Linked DNA regions of Homo sapiens. The protein of the gene in region 1 interacts with the protein of each later gene in a pairwise test. Each region holds a gene or a part of one and is shown in the gene's direction. Other genes may lie near its edges.

What was found.
Region 2: the proteins of PPP3R2 (region 1) and MLH3 interact in a two-hybrid assay, tested with the Homo sapiens proteins (one large-scale study listed by BioGRID and IntAct).
Region 3: the proteins of PPP3R2 (region 1) and DLC1 interact in a two-hybrid assay, tested with the Homo sapiens proteins (one large-scale study listed by BioGRID and IntAct).
Region 4: the proteins of PPP3R2 (region 1) and PTPRJ interact in a two-hybrid assay, tested with the Homo sapiens proteins (one large-scale study listed by BioGRID and IntAct).
Region 5: the proteins of PPP3R2 (region 1) and PDGFRL interact in a two-hybrid assay, tested with the Homo sapiens proteins (one large-scale study listed by BioGRID and IntAct).

The regions. Positions count from the first base shown.
Region 1 is NC_000009.12:101,592,170-101,596,298, reverse strand, and holds the start of PPP3R2 (calcineurin subunit B type 2), read left to right. Parts: upstream 1-1,329; 5' UTR 1,330-1,377; coding exon 1,378-1,890; 3' UTR 1,891-4,129. UniProt on the Homo sapiens protein: Regulatory subunit of calcineurin, a calcium-dependent, calmodulin stimulated protein phosphatase. Confers calcium sensitivity.
Region 2 is NC_000014.9:75,037,960-75,041,481, reverse strand, and holds part of MLH3 (DNA mismatch repair protein Mlh3), read left to right. Parts: intron 1-1,457; coding exon of another isoform or gene 1,458-1,466; coding exon 1,467-1,571; intron 1,572-3,069; coding exon 3,070-3,142; intron 3,143-3,522. UniProt on the Homo sapiens protein: Probably involved in the repair of mismatches in DNA.
Region 3 is NC_000008.11:13,102,348-13,105,869, reverse strand, and holds part of DLC1 (rho GTPase-activating protein 7), read left to right. Parts: intron 1-3,016; coding exon 3,017-3,080; intron 3,081-3,522. UniProt on the Homo sapiens protein: Functions as a GTPase-activating protein for the small GTPases RHOA, RHOB, RHOC and CDC42, terminating their downstream signaling.
Region 4 is NC_000011.10:48,127,047-48,130,568, forward strand, and holds part of PTPRJ (receptor-type tyrosine-protein phosphatase eta isoform 1 precursor), read left to right. Parts: intron 1-733; coding exon 734-997; intron 998-3,412; coding exon 3,413-3,522. UniProt on the Homo sapiens protein: Tyrosine phosphatase which dephosphorylates or contributes to the dephosphorylation of CTNND1, FLT3, PDGFRB, MET, KDR, LYN, SRC, MAPK1, MAPK3, EGFR, TJP1, OCLN, PIK3R1 and PIK3R2. Plays a role in cell adhesion, migration, proliferation and differentiation.
Region 5 is NC_000008.11:17,587,195-17,590,716, forward strand, and holds part of PDGFRL (platelet-derived growth factor receptor-like protein precursor), read left to right. Parts: intron 1-2,273; coding exon 2,274-2,571; intron 2,572-3,522.

The DNA.
Region 1 (4,129 bases):
CCCATAATCAGCTTTAAAACATATCCATGGATTATCATTTGTTTATAGAGGAAAGTAAAATGGCCAGACTTAATGATAAGGTGATCAGTGGCTTAGTTTTGCTAGTTCCAGCATGGTTATCTTTAGACTGATATTTTGGCTGAACTATAGAACACAGAACTTGCCAACATTTTTTAAAGCGAAGGAGTGTTTGCATCTTTCAGTTTGATGTAGTGGCCTGAGGTTCCCCCAAGTCCCTTTGAACTGTTTGCTCTTGAACCACATTTGTTTCTTATGCATTTGGAGTAATTGATGCGCTCCGAAAGGAAGAAGGAATAAGAGGGAGCATGTGAGATTAGTCTTCAACAGAAAGAACAAATCTAGTTGAAACAAAAGGAGAAAAGTGAGATCATCCAGAGGCGACTGTCACTCTCAACACACACAAAAGGCTTCTTTGGGCACATTGCAGACCTTCCCCCAAGGTATTCTGCAGAATAGCCGCCAGGCACCAACAACAAAGATGTGACTCGGGCATGAGATGATGGATAAGAGGGAACAGAGTAACAGAGGTTGTGTTCTTGAGACCTGTGTCATCTTGAAAAACGCCCTGAATTCAGCATTGTTTATATTCCTCGGGAATATGTTAGTGCCTGTAGGTGATCCATGTAAGAAATTCTGCGCGGTATCTGCCTGGTCTCTTACAAACACTCTGAATCCTACGTCCTGAAAAAGGTACAGAAGGATGTCAATCCCGGCTTCCCCTCCCAGGGAATCGTGGAAAACATACTATATCAATGCCTTGATGTGTCACCTTGTTTCATCCTTACACTAGGTCTGTAAAGCAAGTATACAGTGTCCTTGGTTGCAGTTCAGTCATTCGGCGTATATTTATTAAGCACATATTGCCTGTGAAGCACTGTGCTTCTGGGATACTGCAGCGAATAACACAGGTGCGATCCCTTCTCCTTTGGGGTTTACTTTCTCAGAGAAAAAAAAAAAAGAAATAAGTAGATAAAATAATTGCCAGGGAAATTGGGGTTATCATGGAAAGGTACAAGGAGTTTGAGAGAAGGAAAAAGAGAAGGGGCAGCCCAGCTTTCCACCTCTGCCTCTCCCGGGCACCCCCAGGCTCCATTCTCTCCTCCCTATACTCCTGCCCAGACAGCACCCACCTCCCCTTCCGCCCCCTTTTCCCTCCTTCTTTCCCTCCTCTCTCCGCTCCCTCTCTGACCTGCCGCCCCTCCCTCCGCTCCCCTGCCCTTTTGCTCGACCAGGGCCCCCGGGAGCCCTCTACCCCCACCCCATGGCCCAACCGTCCGGGCACGAGCCCCGCCCGAGCTCACCGCCCCTGCTCCCCTCTCCGACCCTTTGAGCCGTGGCCGTTGCCAGATGTCCACAATGGGAAACGAGGCCAGTTACCCGGCGGAGATGTGCTCCCACTTTGACAATGATGAAATTAAAAGGCTGGGCAGGAGGTTTAAGAAGTTGGACTTGGACAAATCAGGGTCTCTGAGCGTGGAGGAGTTCATGTCCCTGCCGGAGCTGCGCCACAACCCGTTGGTGCGGCGAGTGATCGACGTCTTCGACACCGACGGTGATGGAGAAGTGGACTTCAAGGAATTCATCCTGGGGACCTCCCAGTTCAGCGTCAAGGGCGACGAGGAGCAGAAGTTGAGGTTTGCGTTCAGCATTTACGACATGGATAAAGATGGCTACATTTCCAACGGGGAGCTCTTCCAGGTGCTGAAGATGATGGTGGGCAACAACCTGACGGACTGGCAGCTCCAGCAGCTGGTCGACAAAACCATCATCATCCTGGACAAGGATGGCGATGGGAAGATATCCTTTGAGGAATTCAGTGCTGTGGTCAGAGACCTGGAGATCCACAAGAAGCTGGTCCTCATCGTATGAGCCTTTTTCTTACAAGCACCACCCAACAACTTCTGCTTTCTTCCCTATCTCTTTCAAGATTTGCTCAAGACGTCCAACTGTCTCTCTGACTTATCTGGAAGTATTTCTTTTTGTGAAGCCATATGTCCTAACAGGAGCTTCATCACCAACTCAGTGCTATTAATTCTCCTTCTCTGAATGACTCAGGGTACCCTATAGGGGGAAGAGCAAGTCAAATGAGCATAGTGGGGAAAGAAAAGGAAATGGCTTTTATAAACATCTTTTACTTTGTTTTGATTCAAAGACCAAACTAGAACTTTAAAAGTTCAAAAATAAGAAAGTATACATTTTTGCTGTTATTTCTCATCATTTTGTATATGGGAGGAAATTTATAATTTGCATGGGTGTTAGGTGAACTGTTTTCATTTGCTTGTGTTCAGATATCTTGCCAGATTGTTAACTTCCTATTGTAGCAACAGGGACAAATATATTTGTCTTTGCTGGGCATCTCGTAATCACTTTTCTTAGGGGACAGAATCCCATCTTTTCCTTCGGCAGATTGCAGCCCCATTCCCCACAATGCATCCAGAAATCGCTGTGCATGTTTGAGGGGTAGGAGTTCATTTGGCCTCCTCCTGACTTGTTGCTCCAGCTCCTGAACAGAAACTAGCTTCAGGGCTCTTATAGGAAATGCTAAGCCTGGACTAAGTGCCCAGCTCAGCCATCATCCTCATTAGCAGTGGGTTTCCAGGGTTGGCAGCCCACACCAGCATTAATTTCAATGAAGGGGACCTCCAGCTAAATAGGGCAAGCAAAGTGTTCTCCCAGAAAGTGCTCTCACCTCCGACACTGGTCCCTACCCCCAGGTGGAGACAATGAGACATTTAGTTAGTTGTCCTACGGAGGAGAGGCAGTAGAGTCAGGCTGCAGTGGAATCTCCCTAGGATGCCAAAGTGGCATTATGTCTGTTGCTCACAGATGCAGAGACTGACAATTGTGTCTCCACAGCAGAGGTGGATGCTAGCTACACCAGCTATGCTGATTTTGAAAATCAGATCTGAGGCCTAGAAGAGAAACTGAGAGCTCTCTCATTCCAGGAAGCCTTTTCCCTAGTGGAACATTCAGTGCAGAAGTCCTCACACACTAACAGATCTCCACCATTGGGTGAGCCGGAGCCTGTGGTTCCAGGGGAGATCCAGAATGCATGTGTCTCTTCCCACGCATTTATGTCATGTTGGTAGCTTTAGATCAGCCATGGTGAGAAAAGAACAAAAGCTTTTAGTTGTTTTTGTTTTGTTTTGGAGAATTTGTTTACCAGTAAATACATCACTGCCTGTACCCCAAATGTTACCAGCTCCCTGAGGTGTCCCACATACTATTGTGAGTTCTCAGAGCATGAACTGTCCTCAGAAGAGCAGGGCTAGGACTTGTCCCAGCATCTGTGCCTCCATACCAATCCTCTTTCTCACAGAGAACCACTTCCCATATAAGATGCTTAAGGCTCTCAAAACAGCAGAACAATGAAACATACTCTCCCTACACTTGCTTAGCCAAGAGATACCACTCAGGTAACTTTTTTCAGGACATGGAAGATCTGTTTCAAGGAGATTTACTGCTATTTTATTTGGAAGAAGCTGGCAACTGGTCTTGACCAAAATAGAAAAAAAAAAAAAAAGTCCACAAATTTAATCACTTGTAGGGAACCCATCTATCAAGGTACCCTACCATATACTTTTGTATTTAATAGATTACTTAGAAACCACAAAAATAGGAATCCTTACCCCTTCAATTCCTGTTCAACCCTAAAAACTGTGATAAACGCTCCCAACCCTGTGGTGATCAGGGTTATGTAATGTTCAAAGATTCAGACACACCTGGGTTTGGATTCAGTTGCAACTGGGTTGTTATCACACTCACTTCTTTTTAGCTGTGTGAGCATGAATAATTTACTTAGCCTCTCTGTGTCTTTCCACCTAATTAAAGAGGATCCACCCCAGGGTTATTTTGAGGATTCAAAAAGGCATGCAACACACCTGGAGCACAATTCCACTTTCATTCAACTAATTCCCTTCCCTTCCCCCTTCTTCCCCTTCTACAAGATCAATATGTAAAGGAGACATGAGGCTTACTGGTTGCTTTTGAACACTTACTTAGTTCTTAGCTACACCCACTCTAAAATTAACTGGACATTAGTGTACAGCCCATGTCCAAGCCCAGAGAGAAAACAATGGGAACAATTTCAAGGTCCTCACCACTCCTT
Region 2 (3,522 bases), on another chromosome or scaffold:
CGCTTCCCAGGTTCAAGCAATTCTCCTGCCTCAGTCTCTCGAGCAGCTGGGATTACAGGCACCTGCCACCACGCCCAGCGAATTTTGTATTTTTAGTAGAGATGGGGTTTCTCCATATTGGTCAGGCTGGTCTCTAACTCCCAACCTCAGGTGATCTGCCCGCCTCAGCCTCCCAAAGTCCTGGGATTACAGGTGTGAGCCATCACGCCCAGCCTTTCTTTGCCTGTTATTTTAAACTTTGAGTTTCAAGATGGGTACAGTGGCATGCACTTATAGTCTCAGCTACTCAGGAGGCTGAGGTGGGAGGATCACTTGAGGCCAGAAGTTCAAGGCTATATAGTGTGCTGATTGCACCTGTGACTAGCCACTGCACACTATAGCCTGGGCAACACAGTGAGACTCCATCTCTTAAAAAATAAGTAAATTAGTTAAAAATAAAATTTGAATTTTATTTAAGCTGGGTATGGGCATGCAAGACTATATTAATTTGTAATTATGATTGGAAACTGGGCATATTTCCAAATTATGTATTTGGAAATTACTGTTTAATGTAGAGGGGAGAAATAAAATTTATAGCATTTGGGAACTCAGGCATTTTGGATTAAACATGTATAATCAATGTGAGAACAGTGAATGTGTTTACCACTCTCAGAAACCCTGACTTGTAGCTTTGGCACAGTATTCAGGGTGGTGATAATGAAATTGTTATCATTAGATAAAGCCACACATCTTCTACTGGAGGAACAGTTCCTCATTGGCCCCGCATGGATGTTCTCTCCTCAGTGTATTTTCACAGAATGTACTGTGCATGTTATAAACAGGGTGTATAATAGATGAGCATTTGTTTACCAGTTCTTTCCTCAAGATATCATTTGAGGACTTGATCATGGAACATAGACAAATTGTTGTTGTGAAACAATTTTTTTTGTTTTGTCAGTAATTTTGTTTATAAGCAAAAATTTTTATGTAAGACTCATTATTCATAAATTCTTTTGAATTTTTTTTTTTTTTTTTTTTTTTTTTTTTTTTTTTGTGACAGAGTCTTGCTGTGTCGCCCAGGCTGAAGTGCAGTGGCGTGATCTCAGCTCACTGCAAGCTCCGCCTCCCGGGTTCACACCATTCTCCTGCCTCAGTCTCCCAAGTAGCTGGGACTAAAGGCGCCTGCCGCCACGCCCAGCTAATTTTTTGTATTTTTTAGTAGAGATGGGGTTTCACCATGTTAGCCAGGATGGTCTCGATCTCCTGACCTCGTGATCTGCCCGCCTCAGCCTCCCAAAGTGCTGAGATTACAGGTGTGAGCCACCACGCCCGGCCGATTCTTTTGAATTTCTATAAATTCCCTGAATTAAACCCACCTCTAGTAGGCTAAATAAAAATGAATGCTTTTAAAGCACTCTGATATCTTTGGTAAAACAATTCTGACACAAAAATTAAAATTTCAATTATATTTTGCTGAGTCTTTCTAGGTTGCTGTTGATGTAAGCAGTGGCCAGGCTGAGAGCTTAGCAGTTAAAATTCACAACATCTTGTATCCCTATCGTTTCACCAAAGGAATGATTCATTCAATGCAGGTAAAAGATTAACTTCAAAATCTCATAAATATATATATATATATATATATATATATATATATATGGCCTAACTCTTCTAAAATTTGATTTATTTAATGATATAGACCACCTTGGTCAAGGCACGTGTGTGTGTGTGTGTGTGTGTGTGTGTTCTTACTAGAACTTTTATCATCAGAAGAAAAAGCAAGGGATTAATTATAATTACAAAGAAAGAAATATCTTTAGTAGTGTAAGTAGGTTTGGAGGGAATGAATTATGGATTCAGGCTGACAGTTTCAAGGATTCTCAAGGTTCTCCTGCAGAAGATTATATATTGACTTTATATTTGGCAATAATTTATAAATCAAAGTCCTTTAGTGACCTTGTCCTTAAGTGTGCAACAGTGCCCTTTTAGAAATTACCTTCTATTGTGTGAGCCTACACAGGTTTGGGAAAGCCCATATTGAGAAGTCATTTCACAAAAGGGACCCTTTGTCTGATCTGCTTTTCTATTTTGCCTTGTGTTTACCACCATGGCTGTCTTATTCCCTTTGTTTTCAGTACGGAAACAAATTAGGAGGCTAACAAATTTGGGTAAACTCCTAACCTGGCATTGACCTGGTACCAGAGCAGGCAAGCAGTTGATCCAGAAATAGACCCTGGGGCAGTGGTATAGGCTCGGGGGTATTGGAGAGCCTCAAGTACCTAGACAGAGAGGAACCACCAAGGTCTAAAGCCACCAGTGGCTTTTAACTTACTTCTTTAATAGACTAGCAGCCGGGCGCGCTGGCTCACGCCTGTAATCCCAGCACTTTGGGAGGCCGAGGTGGGTGGATCATGAGGTCAGGAGTTCGAGACCATCCTGGCTAACACGGTGAAACCCCGTCTCTACTAAAAATACAAAAAATTAGCTGGGCGTGGTGGCGGGCACCTGTACTCCCAGCTACTCGGGAGGCTGAGGCAGGAGAATGGCATGGAGGCAGGAGAATGGCATGAACCCAGGAGGCAGAGCTTGCAGTGAGCCGAGATCACACCATTGCACTCCAGCCTGGGTGACAAAGTGAGACTCCGTCTCAAAAAAAAAAAAATTAAAAATAAATAAAAATAAAAATAGACTAGTTTCTCCATAATCGTTTTCCTTGCTTTCATATAAATTTTAAAAATTTATTTCAGCCTGTATGTTAGCAATCTCTGGTCACATTACCTATTCTCAAGAGTCACTCTGTTGGGAACATCTCAGGCCTTCTCTAAAGTATTGCTAGCACACCACTCTGAGACGTGGGAGTCTGTCTTCCCCTGTCGCCTCCCTCCCCTTACATCTTCTGATCAACTCCACCTGCCCATTCTTTCATCCTTCCTAGTGACTTTTTCTGGTTCATCAGAACCTTACCCAGTCTCAAAGAAAGGAGTGTGATAAGGCAAACAACTCTAAATAAAATACAGTTCTGTATCTTTCTATGCAAATAAGCCTTTGTTAATTTTTATTTAGTGTTGTACCACTTATTTGAATGTCTGACAGGTTCTCCAGCAAGTAGATAACAAGTTTATTGCCTGTTTGATGAGCACTAAGACTGAAGAGAATGGCGAGGCAGGTAAGAATGGAGTTTAGCCTGAATGATTAACCAGCTGGTCTTCTTGTAACCTTTTTTTAATGATTATTTTTGGTATATAATATAGTTTCAATGATTTGGATGGATTAGGGAAAGCCAATCTAAAACTAAGAATATTATGAAGGCTGGGTGCGGTGGCTCACACCTGTAATCCCAACACTTTGGGAGGTGAGGCAGGTGGATGGCTTGAGGCCAGGAGTTCAGGACCAGCCTGAGCAACATGGCAAAACCCCGTCTCTACTAAAAATACAAAAATTAGCTGGGCATGGTGGTGTGCACCTGTAGTCCCAGCTACTCAGGAGGCTAAGGCACAAGAATCGCTTGAACTTGGGAGGCAGAGGATGTAGTGAGCCGAGATTGCG
Region 3 (3,522 bases), on another chromosome or scaffold:
GCAGTGGCTCATGCCTGTGATCCTAGCACTTTGGGAGGCCGAGATGAGCGGATTGCCTGAGCTCAGGAGGTCGAGACCAGCCGGGCAACATGGCAAACCCCCACTTCTACTAAAAATACAAAAAATTAGCTGGGCCTGGTGGCGGGCACCTGTAGTCCCAGCTGCTCAGGAGGCTGAGGCATGAGAATTGCTTGAAACGGGGAGGCGGAGGTTGCAGTGAGCCACTGCACTCCAGCCTGGGCAATAGAGCAAGACTGTCTCCAAAAAAAAAAAAAAAGAAGAAAAAGAAAGGAACCTAGAAGTTACTGGGTTTGAGAGCCACCATGTTTTAATCGTGTGGACTTAGACAAGATCTGTGACCTCCCTGAGCCCCATTTCCTCATCTGTAAAATCTAGGTTAATCATAATATCTGTACCATAGGGTCGTTGGGAAGATGAAGTCATATATAGGAAGTGCCTAGCATAGTGCCTGGCCCGCAGTAGGCCTCGTTTGTGTAGCTGGAACTATGATTTGATATCAGTACTGTCTCTGTAAGGAAATAAGGTCCCAGCAGAGTACATTCTTTGGGGGTCCTCCAGGACAAATGAAAACCACAGAAACCCTAGGGTATAACTCTGGGCTTTAGGTCTGTAATGCCATTAGCTGGGTGCTACCAACATAAAAAGGTAATGTTGACCTTTATAGAACTGGCCTCCTGGGTCTTTTTAGTTTGACTAAAATCTGGAGTTTGTGAGGCTAAACCCCTCTCCAGCCCCATAGGCCTCTGGCTAGTAAATTTGGTTATAAACACCATTCAACCATTAAAGCCCAAATGAAGTCAAGTGACTATTTGATTACAGGTTTGATTAATGGAACCCAGACCTAAGACTAACTGTAACCATTCCGGATTCTTTAAATCTTGAAAGCATTTGAGAACTAAAACACTGTGGGTGTAAGTCATTTAAGTAATTGATACCCCCAATAGAGGGACCTTATATCCACTCATTTTAAAGTGTGCAGACTTTTTCTTAGTTATTTGTTTTCTTTTCTTCCCCATCAACAGAGAGAACTTTTCTGAACCTAGGCGCTCTGGGCTATCTTTATTTATTCTATAAACAGGCTACCACCTAAGGTATGAAGGCAAAATCGGGCTTATCAGGCAGGCAAAAATGCTTTCTATTCTGTTGCATCAACATTGTTAGGCAAACAGCAAGAACAGGATCAGGAAGATAAAGCCCTGAGGAGGTCTCACGGTTCCCAGGAATTTGTGTGAATTAAATGATCTGATCTTATGAAAATGTAGAATTGCAATTCGTAGGAAAAACTAGAAAACTGGTGATAGCAGATGGCAAACAGACACATTACAGGTTCATTTGAGGAAGACTAAGTGATGATCATCTGGGAGATGGCAGGAAAATTGGGGCCTTGAAGGGCTGTCATTCATAGTTGTACATACCGTTTAGTTCAGCATATTTAAAGTGTTTCTTTTTTCAACTGTTGCATTATTTCTCCATGAGGTTTTGGGTTTTTTTTTTTTTTGTAAGTATTTTATTTTCAACGAAACTAAATTTCCCTAATTTTAAATTGATATTGCTGTTTGGCAGAGGTGAAAGTATTGGTATCAAAATGACAATAGGATGGCTGTTGCAAAAAGAGTCTTACCTGAGTGCTTAATTTTGAACCCGGTAAGATTTGGATCCTTGAAGTTACAGTACGCAAATTCTTTAAATGATCATTTGCCGTGACTATAGCACACATTATATTGTCCTATAACAGGAAGCTGTTCTAAATATTGGATATTAAAGAGGGCTTCAATTTCCATTCTGTGCAAGGACTCTAAAATTTTAGACAGGCTGTCCAAGATTATGATTCATCGGAGATAACTAAAACTAATTTTTTAAATTTGAGTTTTGATTTCAAATACAAGACACTGTTTATTTTGCCAAAAACTCTACTTGGTTCTTTGTTGCTGTTTTGCTGTTTCTATTTCTATGAAAGGAGACATCACAAACTTTTCTTTTCTTTCTTTCTTTTTTTTTTTTTTTTTTTTGAGATGGAGTCTGGCTCTTTTGCCCAGGCTGGAGTGCAGTGGCACAATCTCAGCTCACTACAACCTTCACCTCCCAGGTTCAAGCGATTCTTCCTGCCACAGCCTCCCGAGTAGCTGGCATTACAGGCACCCACGACCATGCCCAGCTAATTTTTGCATTTTTAGTAGAGTTGGGGTTTCGCCATGTTGGACAGGCTGGTCTCAAACTCCTGACTTCAGGTGATCTGCCTGCCTCGGCCTCCCAAAGTGCTGGGATTACAGGCATGAGCCACCGTGCCGAGTCACAAACTTTTCTTTCTTGGCTCCATGTGCGGCAGTCCATAATGGCTCAACCTAAGAGTTATTGGAAGAATGATTTTTCTTAGTAAGAACAACTCATTGAGAGTTGAAGAATCAGAGAGACTTGACAGTATCATAGCTGTGTGCCATTTCACACTAAAATATAAAAATTAAAGTGAAAAACTTACAAAACATAAAGGTATTTATTTATTTATTTATTTATTTATTTATTTATTTATTTATTTATTTTGAGAAGGAGTCTCACTCTGTCGCCCAGGCTGGAGTGCAGTGGCGCTATCTTGGCTCACTGCAATCTCCGCCTCCCGGGTTCACGCCATTCTCCTGCCTCAGCCTCCTGAGTAGCTGGGACTACAGGCGCCCACCACCAGGCCCGGCTTGTTTTTTTGTATTTTTAGTAGAGACGGGGTTTCACCGTGTTAGCCAGGATGGTCTCGCTCTCCTGACCTCGTGATCCACCCGCCTAGGCCTCCCAAAGTGCTGGGATTACAGGCGTGAGCCACCACGCCCGGCCAAGGTATTTTTAAATGACTCACTTTTTAAATAAGTTTCTAATACTCCTCTAGGTATTAGGTATTACTGAGTTTCAAGAAACTCCTTAAATATATGAATTGTTTAAAAACAGGTGTTTATCCACTCATTAGAGAGTGGTTGCCTATCTTTGCTAACGTTATTTCTTTGCTCTATAGGCGTCTAAATACTTTAAACAAATGTGCGGTGATGAAGCTAGAAATTAGTCCTCATCGGAAACGAGTGAGTATACAAATTGCATAATAGAATGAGGGGGAAAAGGGGCAAACAAAAAAGTGAATGATGTGTTTTGTAATAGGTTTTGTTTCTCCAACTCTTAGTTTGTTGTTCCGTAAGCATCTACATCTTGAATGATATCGCCTAGACTTGATAGCCTTATGTAGTTGAAGCCAATAGTTGCAACTAGTCCATTACATTATTTTATCTATTGTTTTTGACCTGATCACATCAGCTATTATTTTGCCTAATTACTAACTCAATGCCTATTACATAATAAAGGGATCATGCTTAAGGAATCCCAGTGGATTTTTGCATTGCTCATAGAGGAAATAAACTGAGGTTTATTTCCAACTCTTCTGTCTTCCCAAATATAACAATAACTGTGCTTCAAAGCTGTAGAGATGAAAGCGAAGGCCGATTTGTGCAATATTGAAGAATAATAAGA
Region 4 (3,522 bases), on another chromosome or scaffold:
CAGGAGGTGATGGAGGAAGGCACTGACTCCTTTCTCCTGTGGCCCTTCAGGGGCCTGCCCATTGGCTCATAGTGGAACCCGGTCACAGCCCATGTGGCAAGACCCCCCATGATGCCTTGCACAAGGTCAGCCTCCTGGGCCCAGAGCAGGTGAGGGAAGGGCAGTGGATATGTCGGGAGGGTGGAGTGGGCAGGTGGTGAATAACTGGCACTCGGGTTATCTTTTCTTGAGGTTAGGATTGCTCTCCAGTTTTATAGGTGAGGAAGCTGAGCTCAAGTGGTTTTCCTGTGGCCCACCTGGGTGTCATAGCAGAGTGAGCCCTGGAACCCAGGCCTGCCTCGTCCTGACTTCTGTGATCTCGGGCGATCACATAGATCGCAGTGTTCGCTCTTGCATCATGTGTGTTTGACAACTTTTCTGGGTGCCCCTGGCCCTAGGGTAAGACATGCATAGAGTCCAAGTCATCATTTAGGTCAAATCTCTAAAGTCAACTTACAAAAAGGAACAAAGAATAACCCTGCAGGTGCCATTGGCCAGGTTGTTTCTTCACCGCCCAATGATGCCTGACTTTGGCTGGGACCGTCATGCTTTCCTAGCCACGGTTGATGGTGCAGAGGAGGAAGGAACACTCCCCCAGGAGAGTTTGCTGGGCTTGACAGCATGCCCTGATGACCTCTCCCTCCCTCTGCCTTGGCCGTTCTGGTTATTTTGAACTCCTCTTGTGTTCTCACAGATGCTATTCAGGTTTTTGACGTCACCGCTGTGAACATCAGTGCCACAAGCCTGACCCTGATCTGGAAAGTCAGCGATAACGAGTCGTCATCTAACTATACCTACAAGATACATGTGGCGGGGGAGACAGATTCTTCCAATCTCAACGTCAGTGAGCCTCGCGCTGTCATCCCCGGACTCCGCTCCAGCACCTTCTACAACATCACAGTGTGTCCTGTCCTAGGTGACATCGAGGGCACGCCGGGCTTCCTCCAAGTGCACACCCGTGAGTTCATGCCTGGCTCTCACCACCCTTTCCTGCTGTCCTGCTCCGTGCCAGGCCCAGACACAGGATGCATGATGTAGTAATGGTGACTGTTGGCTGACCACACGCCAAGCTTCGTGTGACATGCTTTCCTTGCACTGGCACATTGTATGCTCACAACAGCCCTGTGATGTGGTTGGAAGTAGCCTTATTTTATAGATAGGAAGCCAAGGCTGAGAGAGGTGCTAGACAGGTATCACAGCTGGAAAGTGGCAGAGGTGAGATTAAGCCTCTGGTATTTCTCACCTGGAGCCTGCGCTTGTAACTCTCTTTCCAGTGTGGAGGAGACCTAGAGTGAATTGATACAGGGAGACAAAAATGACCTGGTATTCATATCCCCTTGTGTCTTGGGTGCTGACATTATAACGAATCACTGGCACAGCTGTATCTCATCTTTGTTTGTTTAAATGTCCCTTAAAAATAAGATTTTATGCAGCAAATAAAAAGCTTTAGGTTTCAAAGAAGGTCCGATAATGTAAAATAAAACAGTAATGGTGCACTAGTAGTACAGTGGTATAATATTGATTATATACTATTAAACAATAGTAGTGACACCAGCACTGCATTTTGCACTGTGCCATGAGATTTATAGACACTGTAGTGGCCTCCGAGGTAGGTATTGGGGTCCCCTTTTACAGATGAGGAAATGACACCCTGATGGCTGAACAGTTTGCCCAAAGCCACAGAGCTAGTGAGTAGCAGAGCAGGACTTGAACTCAGGGGTGTGTGGCTCTGGACCCAGGCTTATCCCACAAGAATGTCCATTCCTTCGCAGGAAGCACACCTTAGCATTCTTATAGATGTATTTTGGACTGGATCTTTGGGAAAATGAAATATGCTTGCATTTCTTTACCTTTTACTCTTTTACTATTTATTAGTTAGGATTAGGTTCAGCCACGAATAACACCACCAAAAACAACAACAACAAAACCCAAGTATCCGTGGCTTAAACAAGACAGGGGTTTATTTCTCTCTCCTGTAACAGAAGCCCAGTGCTAGGCAGGATGGGGATGATAGAGGTTATCCAAGGCTCAGTTGTATGAAACAGAAACTGTGAGCTATTTTAACCAAAAGGGATTTATCCTGGGAATTGAGGTTTTGCAGAATCATTGGAAGAGCTGGTGTATTAGTTTGCTAGGGCTACCAGAACAAGTACCAAAGGCTGTGTGGCTTGAACAGAAATAGACTTTCTCATAGTTCTGGAGGCTGAAGGTCAAAGATTAAGGCAACGGCAGGTGTGGTTTCTTCTGAGGCCTCCCTCTTGGCTTATAGATGACTGTCTTCTCCCTCACATGGTTGTCCTTAGTCTGCGTGTGCCTATGCCCTCATCTCCCTTTATAAGGACACCAGTCTTGCTGGATTAGGGCCTACCTTCATGACCTCACATTAACTTAATTACCTCTTTGAAGACCCTGTCTCCAAAGACAGCCACATTCTGAGGTCTTGGGGGTTAGGACATAAACATACACATTTGGGGGTGAGGGAGCACAAGTCAGCTCATAACAGTTGAGGAGCAGGCTTTAGGCCTCGCCCCAAGAAATGACTCCTGGACTAAGTCTGCAGAACTGACCCCCTGGAGAGTCACCACCTTGGTCACAGACAGCAGAGGGAGGAATCAGGAAGTCTCTGCTGTAGTTGCGGGATCCAGGGGTCTATGTTCTGAGCTGTGATCCTGGGATCAGGAAGCTGCAGCCACCGCTGAGGTTTTGGTTCTAGAGCCAGGCAGCGTGAGCTCCAGTCATTGCATCCACACTACAGGTATAAGAAGGAGGAAGGGCAGAAGGTTGTGCCCCACCCTTAAAGGACACTTCCTAGAAGTCACCCAGTACCTCTGCTCATGCTTCGTTGAGCAAAACTTAGTCACATTGCAACATCTAGCTCCATGGGAGCTGGGAAATGTGGTCTTTGTTTCCAACAGGTATGCACACACAGGGCTAAAAATCTGGGTGGGTATGATGAAGGGAAAATGGGGGAATGGATTTTGGGGGTCAAGACTGGTCTCTCTCTGCTGTCCCTCCCTGAACAGAGGCTCTGGGAGGCTAGTAATGCATTCGAGATAAAGCAGCCAGTGTGGCCAAGGTTCTCCTCCAGAGCCTGAGCCCTTGACCACAGGAGCTCACGCCTCCTCTCATTTCCTGTGAATGATTGTGTGCAATGTAAGCACAGAGCTTCTGCACTCTCATGATCAAGTGCTCTCTCCATGGCCAGAAACAGCAGTTTCTGAGGGGCTCATGTTGTAGGTGATGATACAAAGAAGACAGAGAGAGGGATCAGGTGTCCTAAGTGTACATTTCATCTCAGTATTTTCTGAGGTGGGGCATCCCTGTCTCCTGGAGAAGTATATTTTTAATCTAGTTGTTTACTTTCTTTGCATAGCCCCTGTTCCAGTTTCTGACTTCCGAGTGACAGTGGTCAGCACGACGGAGATCGGCTTAGCATGGAGCAGCCATGATGCAGAATCATTTCAGATGCATATCACACAGGAG
Region 5 (3,522 bases), on another chromosome or scaffold:
ACAGTTAGATCAGCTGGTGGGGCTATTTGGTCAAAAGGTCAAATTATTTTGCATAGATAATAGCAAATATTTGGATGCATAATCTCCAAAATCAGATAATCTCATGTTCCTGAGTAACATAGATACACAAGATGTGATAGCTTAGAAGGATCAGACAAGTAGCTCTGTTTGTCTAAATTCCATAGGATTTACAGATGGTTATTGTCATTTCTGGTAGCTTGAATTCCTGTTACATGATACACAGAATACCAAATTAGACCTTAATCCAGAGGTTCATTAATTTCACAGGCATTAAAGTATTTATGGGGCACAGATTTCTTGGGCATGATAATGGTGGGCTTTTCTTTCTTTCTTTCTTTCTTTTTTTGAGAGAGAGTCTTGCTCTGTCACCCAGACTGCAGTGCAGTGGTACAATCATAGCTCATCATAAACTCGGACTTGTGGGCTCAAGTCTCGGTCTCAGTCTCAGTCTCCAGGCATTGGAGTGCAGTGGTGTGATCTCGGCTCACTGTAACCTCCGCCTCCCGGGTTCAAGCAGTTCTTGTGCCTCAGCCTCCCGAGTGGTAGCTGGGATTACAGGCATGCGCCACCATGCCTGGCTAATTTTGTATTTTTAGTAGAGATGGGGTTTCGCCATGTTGCCCAGGCTGGTCTCAAACTTCTGACCTCAACTGATCCACCTGCGTTGGCCTCCCAAAATGCTGGGATTACAGGCATGAGCCACCACACCTGGCCTACAGTCCCCTATTCATTCTTGTTGAGTGGACACAACTGTGTGGCTGCAAGGGGCTTAGCTGAGATTTTTAGAGTCCGGTGGCCCACCACAGGCAGAACAGTGGGGGCACTCTTCCCTGGATGCAGGCAATAAGGGTGCCTTACTTATAGAGAAGGCAAAAATGACAACAAAAGCAACTTAAAGTCAGTTAGCTTTTTATTATCACTATTTGCCAGCAACTCTCAACAATGTTGGTGATAAAATACTCCTTCCCCAGAGACATTTTGTTGGTGAAATTCTAAATCGTTGCTACAGTTACAGTTGAGTTTTGATAATTTATATGTAAGCTTCAGATTAGTATACACATAATATTTACTCTTTAATAATAAGCATTTTATTCTACCTAGACATCGCCAGCCCCTGACAAATGTAATGTCTGCTTTACCATTTGTTTTGAGAGAAAGTTCACTGTGGTTCAAAATCTTGGCTGGGCAGAGTGGCTCACACCTATAATTGCAGCACTTTGGGAGGCCTACGTGGGAGGGTTGCTTGAGGCCAGGAGTTTGAGACCAGCTTGGGCAACATAGCAAGGCCCCATCTTTAAAAAAAAAAAATTAGCTCAGCATGGTCTCACATATGTGTAGGCCTAGCTACTCAGGAGGCTGAGGCAGGAGGATCACTTGAGCCCAGGAGTTCAAGGCTACAGTGAGCTAGGATCATGCCATTGCATTCCAGCCTGGGTGACAGAGTGAGATTCCGTTTCTAACGTTAAACACAAAATATTTTGCGTGCACTTTCAGCACAGTTTGTGTCCCCAGTCTCTGTGGAGCTACAGATTTCTGTGTTTAAACAGTAGAATCAAAATGAATGGTGACAACATATAGACTGCAAAGTAAACAAACAGCCTTGAATGGCTTCAGTTCTGCTGTTTTGTGTGACTGCTTGGAGACTATGAGACGGTGTGAACTACAGGCAGTAATATTTTTGTTTTCTAAGGGCAAATTTTAGCTCATACATGAACTGTTTTGCTGAATTTGAATAATATCTTTGGAGCTGAAATATTTTTTAATGTTTTAAAATTAATCAAAAGATGATAATTACATGACTTTTACTGAAAACAATATTGACATATGAGGAGGGGAGGATTAAAAAGTTATCTTCTCTAGAGTTACCTAAAAGCTATGAGGGCTGGGCATGGTGGCTCACTCCTGTAATCCCAGCACTTTGGGAGGCCAAGGCAGGTGGATCACCTGAGGTCAGGACTTCGAGACCAGCCTGACCAACGTGCTGAGACCCTGTCTCCATGTCTCTACTAAAAATACAAAAATGAGTTGGGTGTGGCGGCGGGCACCTGTAATCTCAGCTACTCAGGGTGCTCAGGCAAGAGAATCACTTGAACCTGGGAGGTGGAGGTTGCAGTGAGCTGAGATTATGCCACTGCCCTCCAACCTGGGCAATAGAGTAAGAATCTGTCTCAAAAAAAAAAAAAAGTTATTGGCCTCAAATATTCCAAAAATGTCATTACTACAGCGCATTTCTCTCTCCTTACGTTTTGCAGTTACTGGCCAACACCTTCCCAAGAACAAGCGTCCAAAAGAACCAGGAGAGAATAGAATCAAACCTACCAACAAGAAGGTGAAGCCCAAAATTCCTAAAATGAAGGACAGGGACTCAGCCAATTCAGCACCAAAGACGCAGTCTATCATGATGCAAGTGCTGGATAAAGGTCGCTTCCAGAAACCCGCCGCTACCCTGAGTCTGCTGGCGGGGCAAACTGTAGAGCTTCGATGTAAAGGGAGTAGAATTGGGTGGAGCTACCCTGCGTATCTGGACACCTTTAAGGATTCTCGCCTCAGGTAAGCATTTTTTTTTAAAACTGTGTAGGGTTGAGGATTTGTAATAGTTAACAAAATTCCTTCTTAACTATTATTACACATTGTTTCTGACATGTTCCATTTTACCCTAATAGATCATAAAAATAGAAGCTCAAAGGGCAAAAGTCACAGATTTTATTTCTTTACCCAGTTAATAACAATTGCAGGCCGGGTGCGGTGGCTCATGCCTGTAATCCCAGCACTTTGGGAGGCCGAGGTGGGCGGATCACGAGGTCAGGAGATCGAGGCTATCCTGGCTAACCCGGTGAAATCCCGTCTCTATTAAAAATACAGAAAATTAGCTGGGCGTGGTGGCAGGTGCCTGTAGTCCCAGCTACTCAGGAGGCTGAGGCAGGAGAATGGTGCGAACCTGGGAGGTGGAGCTTGCATTGAGCCGAGATAGTGCCAGTGCACTCCATCCAGCCTGGGTGACAGAGAGCGAGACTCCATCTCAAAAAAAAAAAAAAAAAAAATTGCAAATCCTACCAACATTTGCTGAAAGAGTGAAATTTTACAGGAAACCATGTGACAAAACCATATGACAATTTTCTATGAAAATGTATGATGTGTGGAATTTTATGGGAAACCAAAATGTTATAGAAAACTATTATGCATAGAGATGGATGTTTAAAAATTCATATTGTGTGGCCAGGTGCAGTGGCTCATGCCTGTAATCCCAGCCCTTTGGGAGGCCAAAGCAGGCAGATCACTTGAGGCCAGGAGTTGGAGATTAGCCTGGCCAACATGGTGAAACCCCGTCTCTACAAGAAATATAAATTAGCCAGATGTGGTAGCATGCACCTGCAATTCCAGTTACTCAGGCAGAGCTGAGGCAGAAGAGTCGCTTGAACCCGGGATGCAGAGGTTACAGTGAGCCGAGTTCGTACCACCGCACTCCAGCCTGGGTGACAGAGTGAAACTCCGTCTCAAAAA